Homo sapiens: one gene and its partners. The protein of the gene in region 3 purifies or fractionates together with the protein of the main gene of each other region. This does not show direct contact. Each region holds a gene or a part of one and is shown on either strand. Other genes may lie near its edges. The genes, in order: RPL4, CAMK2B, ZNF397, P4HA2, COP1, ZMAT2 and P3H4.

Region 1 (2,171 bases), on a different chromosome or scaffold from region 3:
GGCGCCACCACAGCTAGTGAGTAGCGGAGAACTGGCCGCAGCAGGTGGTCACCACAGAGGCCCAGGTTGGGGGGAAATGGTCGCTCGGGAGGAATGGAGGAGGGGCAGGAGAGGGCCGCGGGGTCACCTTGAGGCGGTTCAGCTGGTCGTGCAGGGCTGCCTTCAACCGCAGCAGCGTCTCCTCCTCCTTGCGCAGTTCCTGAAGCCGGCTCAGCATGTTGCCTGGTCACATAGCCAACCTCCGGGCTGCTGTCGGCCCGGCACTCGGTGATGACGCCATCGCCGCCGACTCCCGGAAACCGAGCGGGGAGGCGGGGCTGCCCGACACATTGAGGAAAGGCGAGGAGTGCGCCCCCTTCCGGCGCCCGCCGTAGCCTGGCCACTCCGCGGGGGACGAGCTGCAGGAAGGGGTACAGCCTGTGTCAAAACACCTTGATTCATGAGTAATGATCAGGATTTTGAAATTAGATCCATGGAGCTGTAAAGAACCTGAAGAAATCTTGGGTTTGGCTATCCTTTAATCCGATAGGCCATTTGCGCACCAAGTGGTCAAACACCGTTTCAAATGACCGGGTGAACAGCACTTCCAATGTGGTGTGCCACCAAGTGGCTATCTTTAACCCCACAAAACTTGCACATGTGTTTGAAGGCAGGCACCAAATCAGTAGCACATGAACTCTACTGTGTTAAGAGGCCCTGCAGGGTAGGACTCACAGTGGACTTTAAAGGGGTAAGGCTGCACAAAATAGAGAAATAAAGAGCATGAAAATAAAGCCGTGCTAAGAAACGACGTGCTTAAGAACTGAGATTTGGCCCTGGAAATGGGGAGGGTTAACAGATCACCTTGGCTGTGAACTGAGACTGTCTTGACAGTTCGAGACTGTCAGAGAGAAGCTGACAGTTTAACAATCCAGATGCAAAACAAGACTTTTGACACAGGACAAGAGGTTAATTCTAGGGTAATATTTGCAGTTTAGCTTTATGGGTAAAAAAAAACACCCTTATATCTGGAGGCATTTCATGGGTACTTCTTTTGAACACAGTTGGTTAACATAATCACCAAGACACACAGGCAGTCCTGAAAAATGCTTCTGGTACTTTTCAGAGAGTCTTGCTCTGACGCCCAGGCTGGAGGGCAATGGTACAATCTTGGCTCATTGCAACCTCCACCTCCCAGGTTCAAGTGATTCTCTTGCCTCAGCCTCCAAGTAGCTGGGGTTACAGGCATGCACCATGACTGGCTATTTTTTATATTTTCAGTAGAGACGAGATTTCATCATGTTGACCAGGCTGGTCTTGAACTCATTGGCTCAAGTGCTCTGCCCACCTTAGGGTCCCAAAGTGTTGGGATTACAGATGTGGGCCAGTGTGGCCTTCTGGCACTTTTTCAAACCATGGGTGAAAATACTCAACTCTATTGTTATAGCTGGTTAAAAAGAACACTTCTCAAGAGGTAATCAATTTTACTGCAGTACCAAAAAAATTGTGCTCTCCAGTTGTGCCCTCTTGTGGTTAAAGTTAAATCTTTACAGAATTTAACCTATTTTCCATCTGGTGGGGAGCTAAACTTGAACAGCCTCTGCGTTTCTGACCAAGTCCTGTTACACCTATTTTTCAAGCCACATTATTTAGAAAACCACAACTTTTTTTAAATCATTCCCCTTCCACTGAACTCCATGGACTTAGTATAAATCCATGCCCCATTTTATACCACACTATATAAAATGTAACAGTCTAAATTATGGCCAACAAAATGTCACTTTAAAAAAATTCTAACCAAGCTTTACAGAGCACACCAAGTCATGTTTCTCACTGCCTGTATAATCAGGTCTTTATTCAAAAGAAGCTGTCCAAAATGATTTGACCTTTATGGAATAATCAAATTTAAGAGTTTATGCAGCAGGCTTCTTCTCCTCTGTAGTAGGTTTCTTCTCTGCAGGCTTCTTTTCAGGGGCTGGTTTCTTGGTAGCTGCTGCCTTTTTTCCCACCAGAGGCTTCTTCTGCTTCTTAACACCAACAGCAGCCTTCTTTCCTTTCTTACCTACCACAGGCTTCTTGCCTGCAACCGCCGCCTTCTCATCTGATTTGGCTTGTAGTGCCGCTGCTGCAGCAGCTGCCTTATCCACCCGGAGCTTGTGCTGCAACAAATTAGGCAGAAAACAGTAAGAATC
Region 2 (3,500 bases), on a different chromosome or scaffold from region 3:
GGGAGAGGCTGCTGGCCAGCAAGAAGCTGTCAGGTAAGTGGCCCTTGAGGAACGCTGGACGGGGTTACAGGGAGAGGAGGGAGTCACGGGCGTTACAGAGGAGGCCTGGCCTGGCCCCATGAGGACAGCCCAGGTCAGCAGAGGCCAGGCTTATGATTCTCCGTACTATCCCCTTGTTGGTGAGCTCCAGAGACCCTGGTCGGGGTTCCAGTTTTGGCACCTTCCTCAGCCTCCTAGACTGAGGGAGGGTGCTCAGGGGTTGGGGCCACATCAGGAACCAGGGTGGCCCTGAGTGCAGCTCCTGGGCACCATGGGCAGGGCCCCTGGGTGGGTGTGAAGTCTGTGGGGCTGGGACAGTGATCAGCAGAGAGGGCCTAGGGGCATGGGGGGCCTCGGAGGGGCCAGGGCTGCCCAGGGCTGGGACAGACATTTTGGAGAGGGGCCTGGGGCTGGACAGCGAGCGGGGAGTGGCAGTGGGAGCAGGAGCCGTGGAGGGGTCTGGGCCCCTTAGGGAGAAGCCAGGAGCTGCCCTGCTGGTTAGCATGGGAGCCCACAGGAAGCCCCGCCAGGGCAGGACTCCAGGCTGCGGCGCCGGGGCAGGGTAGCTGGGCCGTGCATGCAGGTGGGAAGCTGCTGAGCGCCGGCCATTCGCAGGGAGCTGTCCGGCAGCAGAGGCGGCAGGCCTGGGGGCCACTACTTACACGGGGAGGACAGGGGGCCTAGGAGAGCCGGAGACAGGCAGGGCGGGGGCCCCGCTGAGAGGGGGCCCTCGGCTTCTGGGGTTCCTGAACCCCTTCTCACAGAGTTCAGGATGTCAGAGATCCTGGGGGCTGGGGTGGAACAGATGAGACGTGAACATGAGGCAGACAGACACACGAGGCGGCGGCAAGGCGGAGGAGGCCAGTGGGAGGGGTCCCGTGTTCTAGACCCCTTGGGCCCTGGGATCAGGCCCTGAATCAGAGCCTGCCTCAATAGCAGGGAGCCCCCCCGCCCGCAAGCTGAGGTGGAGTGAGGCCTGCACCGACCCTGAAGACTGGAATTGAGGCCCGAGCCTCCAGGGCCTCCCATCCTGCCCAGTGGCCTTGAGCAGGAAAGTGGTCCAGGGCCCTCCTCACAAAGAGGTGGGGCTCGATGGGCTGGGGCCACCCTGGAAAGCCCCAGTGAGGGATTGTGGGGTGATGAGGCTGGAGCCAGGGTCCACGCTCAGCCTGCCCTCGGCTCTGGAGTGGCCCCTCTAGGGGGTTGCCAGCCCTCCAACATGACCCCCACAGCAGCAGGACCCAGGCTACTTACATGGGGCTGGCAGGGGGCTAAAGGGAGCCGGAGATGGGCAGGGCAGGGGCCCCTCGGCTTCTGGGGCTCCCGAGCCCCTCCTCACTGAGCTCAGGATGTCGGGGACCCTGGGGGCTGAGGCGGAACAGGTGAGGCAGGCAGGTGGGTGGTGCGCCCGCAGGAAAAGAAGGCAACTGGAGAAGGACAGGGGGAGGCCAGGAGGGAGGGAGGGGGTGACAGCTGGATACCTGGGGCTCCTGGGGTGGAGGTGGGGTGGCCACCTGTGGGGGTCCTGGGCCTGTGGTGGCCGCAGCAGGTATGTGAAGGCTGAAGGAGCCAACACGGGACCGGTGCCAGAGCCAGAGCCAGCAGAGGCCAGGGCAGCACAGGCCAGTGCAGGCTGGCGCAGAGTCAGAGGCCACCCTGCCACCCTAGTGCTGTGACCACCCCTGGCCAGAGCCAGCAGAGGCCAGGCGCACGGAGAGGGAGTGACAGTCATCGTAGGGGCATGATGGCCACTGAGCCTGCCTGGACTCTGTACCAGCCTCAGGGCAGGCTGGCAAGGCTTCTTTCTGCACGGGGTGGGGTGGGGGGTGTCTGCCTCCACCTCGAGAGGCTGCTCGGGCTCAGATCTGAGCCACAGCTGCTGGCTTCTGGCTGTCTTCTCTTCTCCCCTGCAGGATCCAGGCTGGGCCCCCCTCCCAGGTCCCCTCCCTCACTGCTCAGCACCCCACTCGGCTGAGGGTGATGGAGAACCTCTGGACAGCCTTCATGCTGTTGCCTTTGGGGCCTGTTCCAGACTGCAGGGGAATCACACAAACACCCACTCTCCGGCATCCAGGGCCCAAAGTCCTGTGCTCATCTCTGCTCAGGGACAGTGTCATAGCTGGGTAGGCCGGGCAGGAGCAAGGCTATGCTTTGGACAGGTGAGAAGTTTTCTCCCCTAAACTGGCAGAGTGGCTGACCCTTTTTGGGCACCAGGGTAGCCCTGAGAACAGCATAAGGCTTATTAGGTGACCGTGTGAGCGATGAGGGTCAGGAGGCCCCATGTGGGTGGTCTGGAGGCGGCAGAATCCATGGAGCATGCCCCAGTGCCTGGTGCCCTGGGGGCCTCTTGGGGAACACACAAGACATTGGCCTGGGTGAGCAAGGGAGGGGGCCCTGGAATCTGTGGTGCAGAAACCCACCGCAGCAGGACACTCCTGGCTAAGCAAAGGCAAACACGGAAACACTCACCCAGCTGCCCGGCCACTTGGCAAGTGCATGCTGGACAGAAACGCAAGCTTAAGGAGCTTTAAGACAAGGACAGCATCTTGGAACAAATTCTACCCATGGGCCTGTTTCCCCGTGAGGGTCCTGGTGTGGAGAACCTGCCTCCATGCAAAGCCGTGGCTTCCTCACTTGGATGCGGTGACCGAGACTGCCCAGCTGTCGGTCATCTCTGCCATGCTTCTCCGCTCTGGGCAGGCCTGACACCCAGGCTTGGAGCAGGATTACAGCTACAGGGTCCCTGAGCCCCTCAACACATGCATAAACTAGGCGTCGCAGGAGAGTTGACCCTGCCCAAGTCCCACCCACCTCAAAGAGCAACCCAGCAATGCCAAGGCCGCTGGGGGGGCAAGGACTCAAGTGCAGGTACCTTTAGCGTCTTCATCCTCTATGGTGGTATTGGCACTGTCAGAAGACTCCTGAGGAAACACGGGAGGCAGCGGGTCAGGATGCGGCCAAGGATAGGTGGGACGTGGCTGAGGGCAGGTGGACAGGGCTGGGCCTGTGTCAGGACCAGCCCAGGCTCTGAAGCTGATCTCTGCCTCGGCTGCTTCCACGGGGCTTAAAGGCCAGGGGCTCAGGGGACATGCCCTCTGGCGGCTGCAGGGCCCCAGCTCTGTGGACCTCATGCGGCAGTGACCGGAGAAGACACCCAGTTCTGTGCTGGTCCCTGGGAGGGCGCCCCTCACCAGGGTGCATTCTCACGGCAGCCAGCACAGGCTGGCACGGAGTCCGAGGCCGGCCCTGCCACCCTAGTGCTGTGGCCACCCTGCATCCCCAACACATGAGGGCTCCACTTCTCCCAGCAAGATGAGCCTGGCAGAGAGACTGGTATGCTCAGCTGACTCTTTAACAAGAGAGGAAAATGGGCTTTTTGAAATTCCAAGACGTAAAACACAATGGGACTGGCTGGTTCCAATGAAGCAGCAGCCGGTGTCATCCAAAATACAGGGTGAGGC
Region 3 (3,137 bases):
AGACTTCTCTGACAGACAAGACCTCACTACAACAGGAACTCAAGGAATGCTCCACACTTTGTTTCTGGCCTTTGGCTACTGTTCTTTACTGGGGTACCACTTCCCTAGAGTACCACCTTGGCTAACTCCTCCTCATCCTTCAGGCCATTTCCCCCATTTCCTTATCCAAGGCTGAGTCAGGTGCTCCTTAAGGTCACATAGGAGCATTCCACTTTCACTGCCTGTCTGGCTGCCTTGCCCATTAGACTGTAGAGACTACAGTCTTGTTTTCCACTGTATTCCTAGTTCCTGGGACAAAGTAGGTACTCAAAAAATAACCTTTGGGTAAATTATATTCTTTCTTCTCATGCCTATCTAATTCCTGGCCTGCCCTGGGCTCAACAAATCATTGATGAAGCCATTTCCCCACCTTTCCTGCTGCTCTGTCACTGTTCTTTATTGGGTCAGTTTTTTTTTTTTTTTTAGTTCCTGAGACGAAGTGCCTCACACAGTCCACACCAGCCCCATAACCTGGCACACTAACAATCAGATGCAGTGACAGAGCCTGGGTTGCTATATTCATGACACTTTCATACAAAATGAGGTTTCAATGTTACATTCCCACTTTTCGTATTTCCTGAGTATTCCTAATAAGAGAAGAGCTGGAAGTAATGATTCTTCTGTATTCTGTTCTGATTAGTCACAGGAAAAGCTTTCAAGGGACACTTTACATTAGCACTGGGAAATGCTGCACAAAGCAAGCTAGACTCAAGACCTAGTATTTTATAACCTTTATGGAGTTTTGCTCCAAAGTAAACTCTTTTGACTAACAAACTTAAAAATCTGACTGAAGTATTTACACTATTCACAGTATTCACAAATTACTTTATAGTGTGGACTCTTTGATGGCGCATAAGGACCGATCTGTGCCTGAAAGCCTTCCCACATTCATTACATATATAAGCTTCATCCCCAGAATGAATTCTCTGATGCTGAACAAGGGCTGAGCTCCTTTTGAAAGTTTTGCCACATTCATTACACTGATAAGGTTCCTCCCCACTATGAATTCTCTGATGTCTGATAAGGTTTGAGCTCAAACTGAAAGCTTTTCCACATTCACTACATTCATAGGGTTTCTCTCCACTATGTATTCTCTGATGAGTAATCAGCTCTGAGCTCTGCCTGAAAGCTTTTCCACATTCATTACATTCATAGGGTCTCTCTCCTGTGTGAATTCGCTGATGTCTAATGAGTTTTGAGCTCTGGCTAAAGGTTTTCCCACATTCATTACACTCATAAGGTTTCTCACCAGTGTGAATTCTTTGATGTATAATGAGATATGAACTTTGACTGAATGCTTTGCCACACTCATTACATTTACAAGCTTTCTCACCAGTATGGATTTTCCGATGTCTAATGAGGGCTGAGCTCTGATTGAAAGCTTTCCCACATTCACTACATTCATATGCTTTCTCACCACTATGAATTCTCTGATGAATAATAAGATAGGACCTCAAACTAAAGGCCTTCCCACACTGGTTACATTTATAGGGCTTTTCTCCAGTATGGATTCTCTGATGTTGTGTTAGAGAGGAATGCTGCTTGAAGCTGTGCCCACATACATCACATCTATAAGGTCTCTCTTCTGGAGGAACTTTCTGACACATTATAGAGTCTGTAGTTAGAATCAAGCATCTTTCAGCCTCATCATAAAGGTCTCTCTTTCCTAGAGATTTGTTTGTGAAGATCACTTGACTAAAACTGCCCCCTTGGGAAGGAGATCTTAGTTTCTCCCCTGTAGCACTTCCTTGCTTCCACACTAAATTGCTTTCATGCTCACTAATTCCTCGAAATGAAGGTTCCTGAGGGAGTCCCTGTGATTTTTCTTCTGAGATGCCCTCTTTTGTTGCTGTTTCACTGTTCTCACAATCTGAAACAATAAGTAGCAAAAAAACAGATATTACATTTCTCTTGTCACCGTCAAAACTTTCTACATGAGAGAAAACAGAAGCTTCTACCTACAAAGATGTCACTGTCCTCCAGTATCTTTTTTTTCAACTGGCCAAAAGAGGGTCTCTCTTATCTAATAATAAAGTCTACATCTACACTTCGAATTCCATCCTTTCCTGCCTCTTTTGAGACATCAACTGATAAATTACCTACAATTTTTTTCTACTATTTACAATCTCTTTCTCAACTGATTCCTGTTCATCAGCTTTTAAATAAGCTTAAGTGTCTCTCACCTTTTAAAATCAACCTTCTTGCCTACATATCTCCCTCAAGCAACCTCACTCTCTCTCAAGTGGTTTCGCAACCTCACTCTCTCATAGTGATTTCTTGAAAGAGTTGTCTGCAGCCTTTCAAGTGAAAGTATCCTCATTCCACAATCTGGTTTCTGCCTTACTGTCCTCCCCCGCCCCCCACCGCCCCGTCCCCTACTTCCACTGATACTACTCTCATCAAGATCACTTCATAGCTCTTTAATCCACTAAGTACTTTCTAGATTATTACTTAGCCTCTCTGTAGCATTGACACTGAGGATCACACCTTCCTTCTAGAGACATTCTCTTCCAGTGATATTAGCCTGATTTCTGTGGCTGTTCCTTCTTAGATTCTAGGGTAAATCACTCAAACACGAGCGTTCCTCCAGATTCTGTTTTGGGCTCTCATGTATCCTTACTCTACAAACTCTCTACCCTTGGCTTCCATTACATCTTACATTGTAAGCTATTGTCTGACTAATGTCTGCCCAGATCCCCAATTATATCCATATTTTATTAAGCTCTAGAGTCTTATGCTAATTGGGCATTTTACTTTTGAATATTTCACAAGCACCAAATGTACCAACCTAAACACATCATCAGATGTATCTGTTTTTCCTTATGTTTTCTCATTCACATGAACAGTACTACCATTAACCAGACTGTTGAAGACTGAAACCTCAGTATCATCCTCAACTCCTCTCCCTCACACTCTAGTTTTAATAATTACCAGATGTTGCAAAACAACTTAAATGCTGTTGAACAGGAGTCAGCTTTTATGTTCTCCACCGCTTACCATAACACATATTGATTGAATACACTGTGGCCACTTGGATTACAGCAGTCTTTAATAGGACTATACTCTTGCCTTCCTTACATGATTCTCCATTTGCAGCT
Region 4 (3,500 bases), on a different chromosome or scaffold from region 3:
AAAAAGAAAAGGGCAGAGAAAAGAAGACGGAAGGGCAGGCTTCCATGAGGTCCTGAACTCTGTCCCCAGAGTCAGGGCCAGCATGAACAGGCAGTACAGGATGCCTGCTGCAAGGGGGTGAGGAGGTGCCAGCAGGCAGGAAAAGGCAAGCCACCCATCCCTAGGGTAGGCACTGAGAAGTCCTGAAGTTGGGGCTTGAGCAGCTACGAACCCCTGCTCTTTGCTTACCTTTTGGAAACCCGGTAGCTGGCGACAGTGAGGACTCCTGTCTTGGGATCACGAACGGTGGCTCGTGCAAGCTAGAAGGAAGGAGGAGAGGGAAGACTTGATTTGTTTGTTTGTTTGTTTTGCCTTGAATATTTTCCCAGAGAGCACTGGGACCAGATTTACTGCCATGCTAGTGGAGGAAGCTTTGCAGCCAATGGCTCTAGCCAAGGCCCCAAGATCCTGCAGGCCAGTTGAGGGCAAGAGTCTGAGGCCTCCACATTCCCAATCCGCAATCAGTTCCTGGCTATTGCCCTGCTCGGTCACTGCTCATCCCTTCTCCTCCCCAGGTCCGCTTTGCCTGCAGAATTATGCCTGCCTTGTCTACCCATGCATCTGCCTGACTAGCCCCTTTCCTTGCCAGGCCCACATACCACCCCTGCCTGAGCACAGCCTGCCTGAGCTTAGCTACTCCCACCATTTTCAGACTGTGCCACCATGCCTGAGCCTCCGCCTTATGTACTTCTCTCAATTGAGTCAAGTTCCACCATCCTTCCGAACCTCAGTGGGCTCCTCTGCCAAGAAACCCATCCAAACACTCTCCTGCTGCACCACCTCACACTGGGTTCCCACAGCCTCAAGAAGCAAAGACAGATGGCACAGTTTTCGCTCCCTTGGGATCCTTACAAGTCAGATGATAAAACCAGGAAAAGATTCTGTAAGTTAAAATAAGTGAACCACTGCCTGGAAGCCACCCACTCATACAGGTACACACTACACATGCACTCCCTGCATCTACTTCATCTCCCCCAGCCTCCACAGTTAGGCTTAGTGAAACCCCAAGGGGGACTCGCCGCCCAGAGCCAGCCAACATGGCAAAGGTCCATGTGCTTCAGCTGTGGACTGTCCTCATGACCTCACATGGGTGGGGCCATAGGCCCAGGTACTCCCACCCCAACACACTTCCCCTTGATTTCAATAAATATTGATGAGTGCCTACTTTGTGCCTGGCACTATGCTAGGTAACTGAGACATGGCCCCTGCACTCTTACAACTCAGTCAAGTGGGGAAAGCAGAAAACCAGTCAGGTAACTGCAGCACAGCATGGGTGAACTTACCATCCTGTGGAAGCTCAGGGTATAGTGTCAAGAATAGCTTCCTAGGGGAGGAGACCACCTAGCTGAGGCCTGAAGGGTTAACATGAGTTATCCAAGTAGAGGAACATTACAGGAACAGGGAAAGAGCAGCAATCCAGAGGCCTGGGAATGAAAATGGGTGTTGCAGTAGGTGTGGATTAAAGGTTATGGGAAGTAGTAAGAGAGAACAGGCTGAAGAGACAAGCAGGGGCTAGGAACTAGATGCAACCTTGTGGCCAACGAGAAATGGGGAAGGCTTTATGCAGGGGAGGGACACTCAAAATGTGAATGTAAAATGGATCACTGTGAATACCTCATGGAGAGTTGACTAATGAGGGGCCAGAGTGGGGACTGGGAGGCTAGTGAGGCCACGACAGAGGTCAGGGCAAGAGATGATGGTGGCCCGGGCCAGGTGGTGGCAGAAGGGATGGAGAGGAGTAGATGGACCAGAAGGCTAGTAAGGGGGTGAGATGGACCAACTTGGACACTGTGCTGCTATGGCATGATCTGGTAAGATGGCCAGCACAAGCAGGACAGACGGCTCCCAAGCTCCTACTCATGGCCCTTCCTGAGCTTCAGCTCATGTCAGTCCCTCCCTGAAAACTGCAGCCACAGCCAGACCCCATCCAAACATCTGTGCCTCAGCATTGGCCTGACACCCACAAAGAGGCTCTGAGCAGCTGTGCTCTGCCCCAGGGGAAGCACAGGGCTATTTTGAAAGCAGGCCAGAGACCCCACAGACAGCTGCCAGGCATTCCCCACAGGCCAAGTTAAGCTCATTGGCTCTACTTCAAAGCCAGAATAGCATCTGTCCCTCACAGTCTCCGGAAAGGAGGGGTCAGCTTATCTTTGAATAGAAGCCATGTTAAGAGCCAAACATGTTTGCCAACCTTGTTTGGCTCTTTGCATGGCTTCTATTCAAATATATCTTTTCCTAACACTACCCTCTGGCCAGCCACACACATGTGTACACATATGCACACATGCACAGAGAAATGTTCTCAGTGTCTGGAACTGAAGAACGGGTAAGAAATCTCTCAGGAAATCCTGGCACAACCAACAAAGTAGTTTTCTTTCCTGGAGGACTCTGGAGCTGAGTAGAAAGGGGAGTCCTAGTCCCCATTCTCCATATATCTGGCTAGCCCCCTTCCTCAGCCACATCGATGATGCCAACCACTGACTCAAAGCCCTAGATGTCCTAGTACCTCAAGCCAAAGCTGTTCCAAGATGAGGTCCAGGGGCCAGGATAGGAACCTATTTCAGGTCTCTCCATGAGTGTCGGGCCTCCTGGTCACCTCGGCCCCTACAATTCTATTAGGAGCAGAGCAATAGAGAATCGAGCTAAATCCTCCCTCCCAATCATCAGTGATGGGATATGGCAGCAAATAGGTCTCTTTGAAAGATGTCAAATGGGGAACAAATCTTTTATGAACTAGAAACAGAAGAATAATTTTAAAACATGGCATATATACAAAACCAACAGCCAACTGCATTCTTAGCAGTAAAATACCATAGGAATTTCCAGGAAATTCAGGAATGAGACAAGGATGCCTATTCTACGTAATTATGCTCTAGAAGTTCTGGGCAATTCAATAAGGTTATAAAAACAAAGGAACTACAAGTATCAGGAGAAAATAAAATTTTCCTTATTTCCAGGTGTTAATGCTATCCAGGCAACCAAAGAGAAATCAGCTAAAAACCAAAAAAGAAATAAGTAAATTCAACCACTAGCTGCAATCTGTATGAGTTTGCTTTTTCATAGGTAAAACAGAGACAGTGACATCATTATGAGCAGCTGTTCATAACTGTGACATAACACTTAATATATATGTTAAGCACTTAGAAGTTCCTGCCACAGTTAAGAATTCAGTAAACATTAGCTCTTACTATGAAATGTATTTGTAAAATCAATAGTTTGGCATATAATAGTAAACTAATAAAATAATGTAACCAGTTAAAAATAATAATGAAGAAATAAAGTAAATTAACAGTAACAAAGAAACTACCAAGGAATAAACTTAAGAAATGTTCAAGGCTTATATGAAGAAAACTTAAAAAGATATGGAGAGACCTGTCATGCCCTTGGATGAGAAGACCCAATATTATAAAGATATACATTCTCCTCTAAGTCATTCACCTCATTTACAGTCCTAATCAGGA
Region 5 (3,500 bases), on a different chromosome or scaffold from region 3:
TCTTTCTTTATGTGTGTATGAGCCAAGTTCTATTCAGATAGGTTGGTACTTTCTCAAACAATATATTCACTGAGAGTAACATGTTTTTCTTTATACTTAAAATATGTTAGTTGTCCTTTCATTTTTCACAATTAAGTTTTATGAACTGATTTTGCCTCTGTTTCTATATAAAGTGAAACATAGAATGCAGTAGGTGATCTGATTTCTGTTTATTGTATTTCTGGTGTAACCATTGGGAATCCATCCTTCTTTCCTAATCTGTGTGGTTTGGGGTGGTACATTTTTTCCCCAAATTCAGAATTGGAACACATGATCCATGCTCAAGTGTCTAGTGCATTGGAATCCTCTGTCTTTAGTATTAATTCACAGATGGGCATTTGGCTCTAAATAGAGATAATGAGACAAAGTAGGCTTTGTAAAAATTACGACTGTTTTGGGGGTTCTTTTAGATATTTGAAACTCAAACGTTCATAAATGCCAAGTCCACTCAAGTGAAGATGGAATGTGTTGTACTGACAATTAGTTTGGGACAAATACTCATAATAATAAGTGCTCAAATATAAATTGCTATTTGCCAGGCACTATTTTAAAGGTTTTACGTTACTTGTTTAATCTTCACAACAACTGTTTGCTGTAGATACTCTTATAGTTCCCATTTTGTAGATGAGGAAATGTGGCCCATAGAGGTTATATAACTTGTCTCAGTTACACGGTTAATAATGGTGGTACCAGTATTTATATTCAGACAATTTGGCTCAGAGGTCAGGTTCTTAACCACTATTACAAATGGTTACCCAAGTTAACCACCCATTTCCTTGCCTTTATTTAGAGGCTGATTTTGTTTAAAATTAGCTTTACTAAGTTATAATTTGCATAAAATAAGTCACTGGTCATAAGTGTGTAGTTGAATGAGTTTTGACACATGAATACACCTGTGCAGTCACCACCCTAATGAAGATATGATACATTTCCAGAAAGTTCACTTTTGCCAGCACTTCATACTCTGTGTCTACCTTCACACCTAACACCTGGCAACCAGTGATCTGCTTTGCATTGCTGTCATTTTGCCTTTTCTGGAATTTCATATTAATGGAGTCCTTTAGTCGGTAGTCTTTTGTGTCTGGTTTCTTTCGTTTGGTATAATGTTTTGAAATACACTGATGATGTTGAGTGTACTGTTTTTTTTCTTTTAATTGCTTAGTATTATCCCATTATATGGATATAACATGAACTGCTTATATATTTGCTAGTTAAAAGATTTTTGACTTGTTTCTAGTTTTTGGCTATTATTTAGAAAATTCTGTAAGCATTCAGGTTTTTGTGCAGACACGTCTTCACATTTTTAGGGTAAAAATATCTAGTAGTGAATTGCTGAGTTCTCTGCCAAGTGTATGTTTAGTTTTAAAATAAACTGCAAAACTTTTTAAAAACTGCCTCTACCATTTTGCATTTCTTTTTTATCTTTTTTTGAGATGGGAGTCTCATACTGTCGCCCCAGCTGGAGTGCAGTGGCACGATCTCAGCTTGGTGCAACCTCTGCCTCCTGGGTTCAAGCAATTCTCCTGCCTTAACCTCCCGAGTAGCTAGGATTACAGGCGCCCGCCACCATGCCAAGCTAATTTTTTGTATTTTTAGTAGAGATGGGGTTTCACTGTGTTGGCCGGGTTGGTCTCGATCCCTGGACCTCATGGTCCCCACGCCTCGGCCTCCCAAAGTGCTGGGATTACAGGTGTGAGCCACCACACCCGGCCACCATTTTGCATTTCTACCAGCAACAATTAAAAGTTCTTTTATTTGGTTTGTATTTATTTCTTGTATTGTTTTATTTGTTTTTAATTGTTTCACATCCTTGCCAGTGCTCAGTGTTTTCAGTCTTTTAAATATTAGTCATTTTTGTGGATATGTAGTTTTATCACATTGTTATGTAACATATTTTTATGTGCTTATTTTTCATTTGCATATCTTTTGTGAAATGTCTGTTTTGATCTTTGGCCCATTTTTTCCCTTAAAATTGCATGTCATCTTGCGTTGTAAGTGTTCTTTATGTATTCTGCATACATCTTTTGTCAGACCTGTGTATTGTGGTATTTTCTCTTAGTCTGTTGCTTATCTTTTCATTTTCTTAATAATTTTTTAAAGTGCAAAAGTTTTTTCTTTTTTCTAATGTATCGATAAAGTTTTCAGTTTTAAGTCCAAATTGATTTTTATTATTTTTAATTTTTGTGTTCTAGCTAAGAAGTTATCTAACATGAAATTAGAAAACATTCTCTTGTATATTTTCTACTAGAAGATTTATAGTTTTCTTATGGTTATGATCCACTTCAAGTTAGTTTTTATACACTGTGTTTGGTAAGGGTTGAAGGCTTCATTAATATTATAACATCATTTGTTGAAAAGATCATCTCTGTTCATTGAATTTTCTTGGCACCTTTCTCAAAAATTAACCATATATATGAGTTTATTTCTGCAATTTTTATTCTGTCCCGTTGGTGTATATATGTTTATCCCTACACAAGTGCCACACTGTTTTGATTATGGTATTATTATAGTACATCTTGAAATCAGGTAGTGTAATTTTTATCCTTTATTTCAAAGTTGTTTTGATTATTTATGTTCTTTGCATTTCCACATAAATCTTAGGATTAGCGTGCCAATTTCTATAAAAAAGGATGTAGGATTTTAATGTTGGTTACTTTGAATCTGTGATTTCATTTGGGAAGATGACATCTTAATATTATCTTTTGAATCATGAACATAGTATATTTCTCCAATTATTTAGGTCCTCTGTAATTTCTCTTAGCAGTGTTTATGCTTTTCAGTTGAGGTTTTTCACCATATTTTTAAAATTTACCCCTAAGTATTTTATGTTTTTGATGGTGTTCTAAATGTTGTTCTTTTAATTTCGATTTCTAATTGTTGCTAGTATGTAAATACACTTTTTTTATGTTGACCTTGTATTTTATGAAATTTTAAGTTTACTTACTAGTTCTAATAATTTTTTGGTAGAACCTATAGGATTTGTAAGAAAACAGTCATGTTATCTGTATATGAATATACTTTTACATCTTTTAAATTTATATGCCCTATTTAAAGAACGTACGTTAATGGATTTATTTGATTGGGTAATTGTTTAAAAGGATTTTTTGGACCTTTATTAGTGAGTGATACTGGTCTGTGAATTTCTTTTAATTTTTTTCTGGTTTTCATATCACAGTGTATTGGTTTGCTTGGGCTGCCGTAACAAAATACAACAGACTAGGTGGCTTAAACAACAGAAATTTATTTTCTCATAGGTCTAGAGACTAGAAGTACAAAACAATGTGTAGGCAGATTCGGTTTCTTCTGAGGCCTGTTTCCTTTCTTTTTTTCAAAAGAGGTGGTCTTGCTGTCTCGCCCAAGCTGGAGTACAGTGGCACCATCACACTGCTTACTGCATCCTCGAACTTCTGGGCCCAAGGGATCCTCCTCCCTCATCTTCCTAGTAGCTGGCTCTACAGGCA
Region 6 (3,740 bases), on a different chromosome or scaffold from region 3:
CAGTAAGAAAAACACTAAGGGCCAGGTGCAGTGGCTCACGCCTGTAATCCCAGCACTTTGGGAGGCCGAGGCAGGTGGATCACCTGAGGTCAGGGGTTTGAGACCAGCCTAGCCAACATGGTGAAACCCCATCTCTACTAAAAATACAATATTAGCCACTTGAAGCCAGGAGGCGGAGGTTGCAGTGAGCCAAGATTACGCCACTGCACTCCAGACTGGGCGATAGAGCAAGACTGTCTCAAAAAAAAGAAAAAAAAAAAAGAAAAAACATTATGTTCAATCCTGAGCTCTGCTGTTCCAAAAACAAAAGATCAAAGGAGTCTGAAATGATAGGAATCGTTTTGGTTCAGACTTCTCTGGACATAGATCCCTTATCAGACGAAAACATAACTCATGCTAAAAAAAAACCTAGGCAAAAATAAGATTTAAAATGGAAGAATAAAATACTCTATATGGAAATCCTCAGCATGAGAAGGAAAAACAAATATTCACAGGGAAGATTATGGAATGTTCTCACCAAATGTAAAACAGGCCCAGTCAATGCCATTTATTATACATGTCAAACAGCTTCTAAGACCGACGGGCTCCCATAATAAGGTTTTGGGGATTTTTTGTTTTGTTTTTCATTTTCTTTTTTGCATCAAACAGGTTCTTCCAAAAGCCTGCTCACAAGGTAGACAAAAACATAAATCTTCAGGAAAATGAAACATGAGAAGCTGAAACAATCTACACCTGAATGTTAAAAAACTCATCAGACACAAACCACACCAAACACTCATCCCATTTAATTTCCTGTTACATGCTCTGAGGAAGCCAAGAACATCAGGCCCCAGGGCAGCAATGCTCTAGGATTCCAGCTCGGACCCCCTCTATATGACAGATTCATGCACACACATCCACACACCATAGAACCAGGCAGAAATACACATGCATGCACAGGTGGCTAGAGAACCATAGGGCAGGATGGGAAAAAGGGCTGATCAAGGATATGCAATCAACTGGAAACTGGGACCTAGAGAATGCTTCTGTTGCAGGATGAACATGAGTTAAAATTAAAACAAAGGCAGAACACAGGATAAAGGTGGGATGTTCAGACAAGAGGTGGGATAGATGAAGAGATAAAGATGCAGGGGGAGTTTTGGGAAAGCAGCCTCAGAAGGGGAGGTTTTTCTTTATTGGGAACTCAGGTGGGCAGGGTCCTGTGACTCCAGTGATACACTGAGGCAGAAGCAATATGCCACAGCATTACCTCTGCAATCTGTGCCCTCTCCCAAAGTAGAGGGAAACCATGAGCCCCCACCCTCTATCCCTCCCCATTGACACTCTTAAGAACTTTCCCATTACCCAAAAAGAAATGACCCCCTACTACACACACACACACGCAAAGTTAGGTCCAGCATAGGCCAAAGTCAGGCCAAGCACAGAAAGCCTCAGTAACTCTTCTTGGTGGAACCAAAGCCAGAGAAGCCCATCACAGCTGCCATCTCATCGTCCTCCTCAAATGTCAAGTCCTCCTCAGCCCTCCTTTTCTTCTCCTTCTGTTTCTCTTTCTTGTACGCTTTGGCCTTTTCCTCCTGGAGGGAAAAATCACTCAGAATCAGTTTAGACTCCTCAGCCAAATGTTGTTTGTAACAACAACTAACATTCTGGGGCATGCAGTACATGCCAGAAATTGCTCTGAGTACTTCATGTATATTAAGATCTCTAATATGGGGATATTGAGGCACAAAGAGGTTATATAACTTGCCCAAGATTCACAGCCAGTAAGTGGAAGAAACAGAATTTTGACCCAGTCAGCCTGATTTCATGGGTCTCTTTAGGACTAGGTACATTTAGTTAATTCCTCTTGCAGTTAAAAAAAAAAAAAAATTATGGGGGAGGCTATGCATGTTGTGGGGGACAGTGGGTATATGGGAAATCTTTATAACTCCCTCTCAATTTTGTTGCAAACCTAAACTCCTCTAAAAAAAGTTTAGTCTTTTAAAAAAATTAAATCAAAGAATACAGATGAGACAGTCCTCAACTTATGATGCTGACAAGATTTTTCAATTTTATAATGGTGAAAAACTGACATGCATTTGAAACTGTACTTCAAGTATCCATACAACCATTGTTTTTCACATTCAGTACAGTATTCAATAAATTAATGAGATGAATACTTTATTATAGAATAGGCTTTGTGTTAGATAATTTGGGTCAATTGTAGGCTAATGTGTTCTGAGCACATTAAGGTAGGCTAGGCTAAACTACAGTAGGTTAGGTGTATTATGTATTTTTGACTTATGATATTTTTAACTTGATGATAGGTTTATCAGTAGGTAACCCCATCAGAAGTTGAGAAATATCTGTATGACCAAAAAAAAAAAAAATTTTTTTTTAAATTACAAAAAAAAAAATAAGGCCCAGAGAGTCTAGGAGAAAAAAGTAGTTTCAGAGCCATTTCCTTCAGATCATGAGAATCCTAAACAAAGGCAACAAATGTTTCCGCTAATATACAGAACTCAGGAGATACAACTCTGGGGGTGGGAGTAGGAGTGGGATGAGGACAGGGTCTCCCATGATTCATAACATAAAACTCAAATCTGGGGGAGAGGGGAAGGATAGGAGACCCTTACCTCTTCTCTGAGCTCCTTCATCCTTTCCTCAAAATCATAATCCTTCTGCTTCTCTTCCATCTTCTTCTTGTTGACCTCAAAACGTTTCTTCACCTGATCCAGGGTGGAACGTTCCACACGCATAGACATGCCCAGGTTTCTCTGATCTGCATAGGGTCAACAGTGAAGAAGGCAAGTTCATTACAACATCCTCAGCCCCTCAAAAATTATTTTCCTGACTTCTCTGACATCTCATAAAACACACAGCAAAAATAATTATGGCTAAAAGAAACTCCCTTGGCCAGCTGGGTCCAGGAGCAGCACATGGTTTGGGTGCTGTTGAAAGCCTCATGGCCTCCAGAATGAGGCCTCTTACCTCACGGCCTCCAGAAATATTACATAATGAAGTAAAAGACGGCCTGTGCTGAAACAACTGGAGAGTTCTAATAGGGGCATCAAAAAAGAGCCCAGTAGAAACTACCCTTCTTACTCCAGCCATCTTTTGATGAGTAAAAAGAAGAAAAAAAAAGCTACCCTTCCATTCCACCCCACCTCCAAAACCCAATTCCAGCCCTAGTCACAAGCTACCTCCAAGCCTTACGTTTCTTTCCATTAATGTGATCCAGAAAGTTGATGGAGTCCTTCACCACACAGTCACAGACATTGCAGTAATATCTAACAGGAAGAAACAGCACCTGAGTCAAATATGGTTTTAAGGATCTTATCATTTTCAACCAAGAAACTCAAATTTTTAGGTAAACTTCTTTTTAGAAGTGTTAAGCCTTCATTTCTATAAAGCCTTAGCTTTCGAGAGAGTATAGCAGTCATCTTCCAAGACAGCCCCAGGATGAGCCCCACCCTCTTGGTATTCCTACTCTGTGTAGTCTCTTCCCAATTTGTACCAGAGTTGGTCTGTTTGGCCAATAGAATATGTCAAAAGTAGTATCTTCCAAAATTAGGTTATTTTAAAAACCATGCCTTCTGTCTTTGTTTGGGTTACTTGCTCTGGGGAAGCCAGTTGCTTTATTGTGAGCAGTCTTATAGAAAGGTCTATGGGGTGGCCGGGCATGGTGGCTCACGCCTGTAATCCCAGCACTTTGGGAGGCCGAGGCGGGCGGATCACCTGAGGTCGGGAGTTCGAGACTA
Region 7 (3,500 bases), on a different chromosome or scaffold from region 3:
CAGTAGCTGGGATTACAGGTGCCCACCACCACACCTGAGTAATTTTTGTATTTTTAATAGAGACAGGGTTTCACTATGTTGGCCAGGCTCGTCTTGAACTCCTGATCTCAGGTGATCCCTCTGCCTCGGCCTCCCAAATTGCTGGGATTACAGGCATGAGCTACCATACCCGGCCAGATCTTGTGTTATTCTCACCACAACAATGTGAGATGGGCATGATTCTCCCCATTCAATGGATGAAGAAACAGAAGCTTGAGAGGTTGCCTGACACTTGTTTGGAGGCCACCCAACTGGTAAGTAATGGAGCCAGGTCTGGCTAGTTCCTCATCCTGGGTGCTGACGGTGTAGATTCTGCCCTCCTCCTCTGGGGTTGGATGGGTGGGGGCGTGGGGGCATGAACAAAGGAGAGGATACATAAATGAGCACTGAGCAGCAACACCTCAGAGAAATTAAGGCTGTCAAACCCTCACTTGAAATCAATGTTAATAGGGCCGGGTGCGGCTGCTCACGCCTGTAATCCCAGCACTTTGGGAGACCGAGGCAGATAGATCATGAGGTCACGAGGTCGAGACCAGCCTGACCAACACGGTGAAACACTGTCTCTACTAAAAATACAAAAATTAGCCAGGCGTGGTGGTGCACGCCTGTAATCCCAGCTACTCCGGAGGCTGAGGCAGGAGCATCGTGTGAACCCGGGAGGCAGAGGTTTCAGTGAGCTGAGATGACACCACTGCACTCCAGCCTGGGCGGCAGAGCGAGACTCCATCTCAAAAAAAAAAAATAAATAAATAAATAAAATAAATCAATGTAATACAATACGGTCCTTCTGTCCTGAGGTCCTGCATTCATTCATTCACTGGTTCATTCAAACTCAGTTTCTGAGCCCAGGCTCTGTGCAGGATGTGGGAGAACAGGGAATAATGTGGCCCTGTGTCCTGCAGTGCGGTTCTCCTGGATACTGGCTGGAGAAGGGGCCCAGGGCTGAGATGGACGAGGGCTGCAATCACCCAGGTCCAGGCCACAGGTGGCCAGGGAGGCACACAGGTCAGAGTGGGCACTGCTAGCCCAGAACAAAGAGCCAGGGCATGCAGCAAGGGCTTCCTGGAGGAGGCACCATGTGAGCTGGGCCTGGGAGGAACAGGATTGAGACATGTACAAAAGGAGGACATGAGAATACTAAGGCTGGGGAAGGAACGGACAGTCTAGACAAGGAACAGGCAAACCTCTCTTCTTCACGACAGCTGACCACCAGGGGCTGGGGCTGAATTCTGGCACACTGGTGGCCCCAGGAAAAGGTCCAAGGTGTCCCCATCACAGCCCAATCCTGGAAAGCAGGAGGCACTCACCTCATCATCTGACTGCAGGTACATGTGGGTGAACTCCAGCAGCTCCCGCAGCTCGGCGGTCTGGTTGTGGTAGAGCATGGCCTCCTGGAAGGAGGGAAGGACGGGGTGGGGGGTGAGCCATACCCTGTTGCCAGATGGCAAGAAGCCAGGGCTCCTAGGATCTGGGCCCACTGGCCCTCTTCTAGCTCAAGGATCAGAGAATAGGTATCAGCTCACAAGCTCATCAGATCATCGTGGCTGCTTGGAACACTGGGTTAAGGATTCTGAGAGTTTGGTGACAAAGAGTCCCTCAATCGATTAGCAATGTCTGCCACTGACAAGGAAGGCAGGAGTGGCACCATGTGCCCCATATTTGCCAGCCTGGCCCTCAACTCCAACAGATTTCCTCCATTGGTTACCTAGGGTGTTCCTGGGAAAGAGGGACAAAGGTCAGCAGTGAGGGTAATGAAGGTAGGGAGGGGAGCAGGTAGGAGTGGATGTGTACCTTCATACCTCCCTCGTCTGGACACTGCTGGTGAGGTGGCAGTATCACTGCCATTTTGCAGGTGAGGCAATAGATTAGGAAAGGGCCATGGTCTTCCCAGGACCACACAGCAGTGGGGCTGGGCTCTGAAGCCAGGACTCTAACCTCAACTCATATTCTTTCTTTCCATTTCCCATCCTGCCTTCCATGGAAGCCAGGAGTTTATTTTTTATTATTTATTTATTTATTTTTCTTTTGAGACGGAGTCTCGCTCTGTCACCCAGACTGGAGTGCAGTGGCGCGATCTCCGCTCACTGCAAGCTCTGCCTCCCAGGTTCACGCCATTCTCCTGCCTCAGCTTCCCGAGTAGTTGGTACTACAGGCGTCCACCACCATGCCTGGCTAATTTTTTTTTCTTTTCAGTAGAGACGGGGTTTCACCGTGTTAGCCAGGATGGTCCTGATCTCCTGACCTCGTGATCCACCCGCCTCAGCCTCCCAAAGTGCTGGGATTACAGGCATGAGCCACCGCGCCCGGCCGCCAGGAGTTCATTTTTTACAAAGTGCATATCCAGCAAGTGCCCCAGAAAGCAGTGCCCACCTCCCGGGGCTGGAAGTCCTCCTCTTCCAGGCCCCAGCGAGCCCGGTGGAACCGGTAATACACCAGGTTCTGCTGCATGACGCTGTCCTTGGGGTCGAAGAGCATGTAGCTGGCGGCGCTGCGGGCAGCCTGGCGCACATCATTCACTGCAGCAGGACAGGGGTGAGGAATTGCTCTGGCACTTCCCCTTCAGAGTCAACTCCATCTTCCAGTTCAGTCCAGCACCCCTGCTACCCAGCCACCTCCCAGAATACCTAATGGGCTCCTTATCCCACCCAAGCATAATGCCAGCTAGCATGTAGTGGGCACTTACCCTATGCCAGGCCCTGACTAACTCATCTAAGCCTCACTGTTATTGTCTTTTTATTGTTTTTGAAACAGGGTCTCACTCTATCACCCTGGCTAGAGTGCAGTGGTGCAATTATGGTCACCTCAAGCTTGATCTCCCAGGCTTAGGTGATCCTCTCACCTCAGCCTCCTGAGTAGCTGGGATTACAAGCAGGCACCACCACACCCATCTAATTTTTTGTATGTTTTTGTTTGTTTTGAGACAGGGTCTTGTTCTGTCACCCAGGTTGGAGTGCAGTGGTGTGATCTCGGCTCACTACAGCCTCTGCCTCCTGGGCTCAAGCAATCCTCCCACCTCAGTCTCCCCAGTAGCTGGGACTACAGGCACGCGCCACCATGCCTGGCTAACTTTTTGTATTTTTTGTAGACACGGGGTCTTGTCATGTTGCCCAGGTTGGTCTCGAACTCCTGGGCTCAAGCCATCTGCCTGCCTGGGCCTCCCAAAGTGCTGGGATTACAAGTGTGAACCACTGTGCCCAGCCATGCCTACCTATTACTGTCATCCCCATTTTACAGTCAAGAAATCTGAGTCACAGAGAGGTTAGATAAATTGCTCAAGCTCACACAGCTGGAGAATGATGGCTCTAGTGAATTAGAGGCCCTTAGCCTCTCTGCTATGTGTACCCAGGAAGGGTCTCCTGGCCCCTGGGTTCTCAGCCCCTCTGCTCTGACTCCTGGCTCTGTCTGAATCTTGGCATCTCCGAGCTGCAGGAACACTGGAGGCTGTCCATTCCAGCCCCAGT

The links.
Region 1: the proteins of ZNF397 (region 3) and RPL4 purify together in Homo sapiens (affinity purification with mass spectrometry; one large-scale study listed by BioGRID and IntAct). This does not show direct contact.
Region 2: the proteins of ZNF397 (region 3) and CAMK2B purify together in Homo sapiens (affinity purification with mass spectrometry; one large-scale study listed by BioGRID and IntAct). This does not show direct contact.
Region 4: the proteins of ZNF397 (region 3) and P4HA2 purify together in Homo sapiens (affinity purification with mass spectrometry; one large-scale study listed by BioGRID and IntAct). This does not show direct contact.
Region 5: the proteins of ZNF397 (region 3) and COP1 purify together in Homo sapiens (affinity purification with mass spectrometry; 4 studies listed by BioGRID and IntAct, with this or other methods). This does not show direct contact.
Region 6: the proteins of ZNF397 (region 3) and ZMAT2 purify together in Homo sapiens (co-immunoprecipitation; one large-scale study listed by IntAct). This does not show direct contact.
Region 7: the proteins of ZNF397 (region 3) and P3H4 purify together in Homo sapiens (co-immunoprecipitation; one large-scale study listed by IntAct). This does not show direct contact.

What each region holds. Positions count from the first base shown.
Region 1 is NC_000015.10:66,497,515-66,499,685, forward strand, and holds the end of RPL4 (large ribosomal subunit protein uL4), read right to left. Parts: intron 2,139-2,171; coding exon 1,893-2,138; 3' UTR 501-1,892; downstream 1-500. Other genes in the region: SNAPC5 (snRNA-activating protein complex subunit 5), read right to left, coding at 128-217. UniProt on the Homo sapiens protein: Component of the large ribosomal subunit. The ribosome is a large ribonucleoprotein complex responsible for the synthesis of proteins in the cell.
Region 2 is NC_000007.14:44,228,095-44,231,594, forward strand, and holds part of CAMK2B (calcium/calmodulin-dependent protein kinase type II subunit beta), read right to left. Parts: intron 2,961-3,500; coding exon 2,912-2,960; intron 1,408-2,911; coding exon 1,294-1,407; intron 831-1,293; coding exon 702-830; intron 1-701. UniProt on the Homo sapiens protein: Calcium/calmodulin-dependent protein kinase that functions autonomously after Ca(2+)/calmodulin-binding and autophosphorylation, and is involved in dendritic spine and synapse formation, neuronal plasticity and regulation of sarcoplasmic reticulum Ca(2+) transport in skeletal muscle.
Region 3 is NC_000018.10:35,244,034-35,247,170, reverse strand, and holds part of ZNF397 (zinc finger protein 397), read right to left. Parts: intron 1,910-3,137; coding exon 861-1,909; 3' UTR 1-860. UniProt on the Homo sapiens protein: Isoform 3 acts as a DNA-dependent transcriptional repressor.
Region 4 is NC_000005.10:132,203,854-132,207,353, forward strand, and holds part of P4HA2 (prolyl 4-hydroxylase subunit alpha-2 isoform 2 precursor), read right to left. Parts: intron 300-3,500; coding exon 229-299; intron 1-228. UniProt on the Homo sapiens protein: Catalyzes the post-translational formation of 4-hydroxyproline in -Xaa-Pro-Gly- sequences in collagens and other proteins.
Region 5 is NC_000001.11:176,197,287-176,200,786, reverse strand, and holds part of COP1 (E3 ubiquitin-protein ligase COP1), read left to right. Parts: intron 1-3,500. UniProt on the Homo sapiens protein: E3 ubiquitin-protein ligase that mediates ubiquitination and subsequent proteasomal degradation of target proteins.
Region 6 is NC_000005.10:140,703,447-140,707,186, reverse strand, and holds the end of ZMAT2 (zinc finger matrin-type protein 2), read right to left. Parts: intron 3,270-3,740; coding exon 3,196-3,269; intron 2,762-3,195; coding exon 2,616-2,761; intron 1,575-2,615; coding exon 1,431-1,574; 3' UTR 501-1,430; downstream 1-500. UniProt on the Homo sapiens protein: Involved in pre-mRNA splicing as a component of the spliceosome.
Region 7 is NC_000017.11:41,805,450-41,808,949, forward strand, and holds part of P3H4 (endoplasmic reticulum protein SC65 precursor), read right to left. Parts: intron 2,556-3,500; coding exon 2,410-2,555; intron 1,431-2,409; coding exon 1,347-1,430; intron 1-1,346. UniProt on the Homo sapiens protein: Part of a complex composed of PLOD1, P3H3 and P3H4 that catalyzes hydroxylation of lysine residues in collagen alpha chains and is required for normal assembly and cross-linking of collagen fibrils.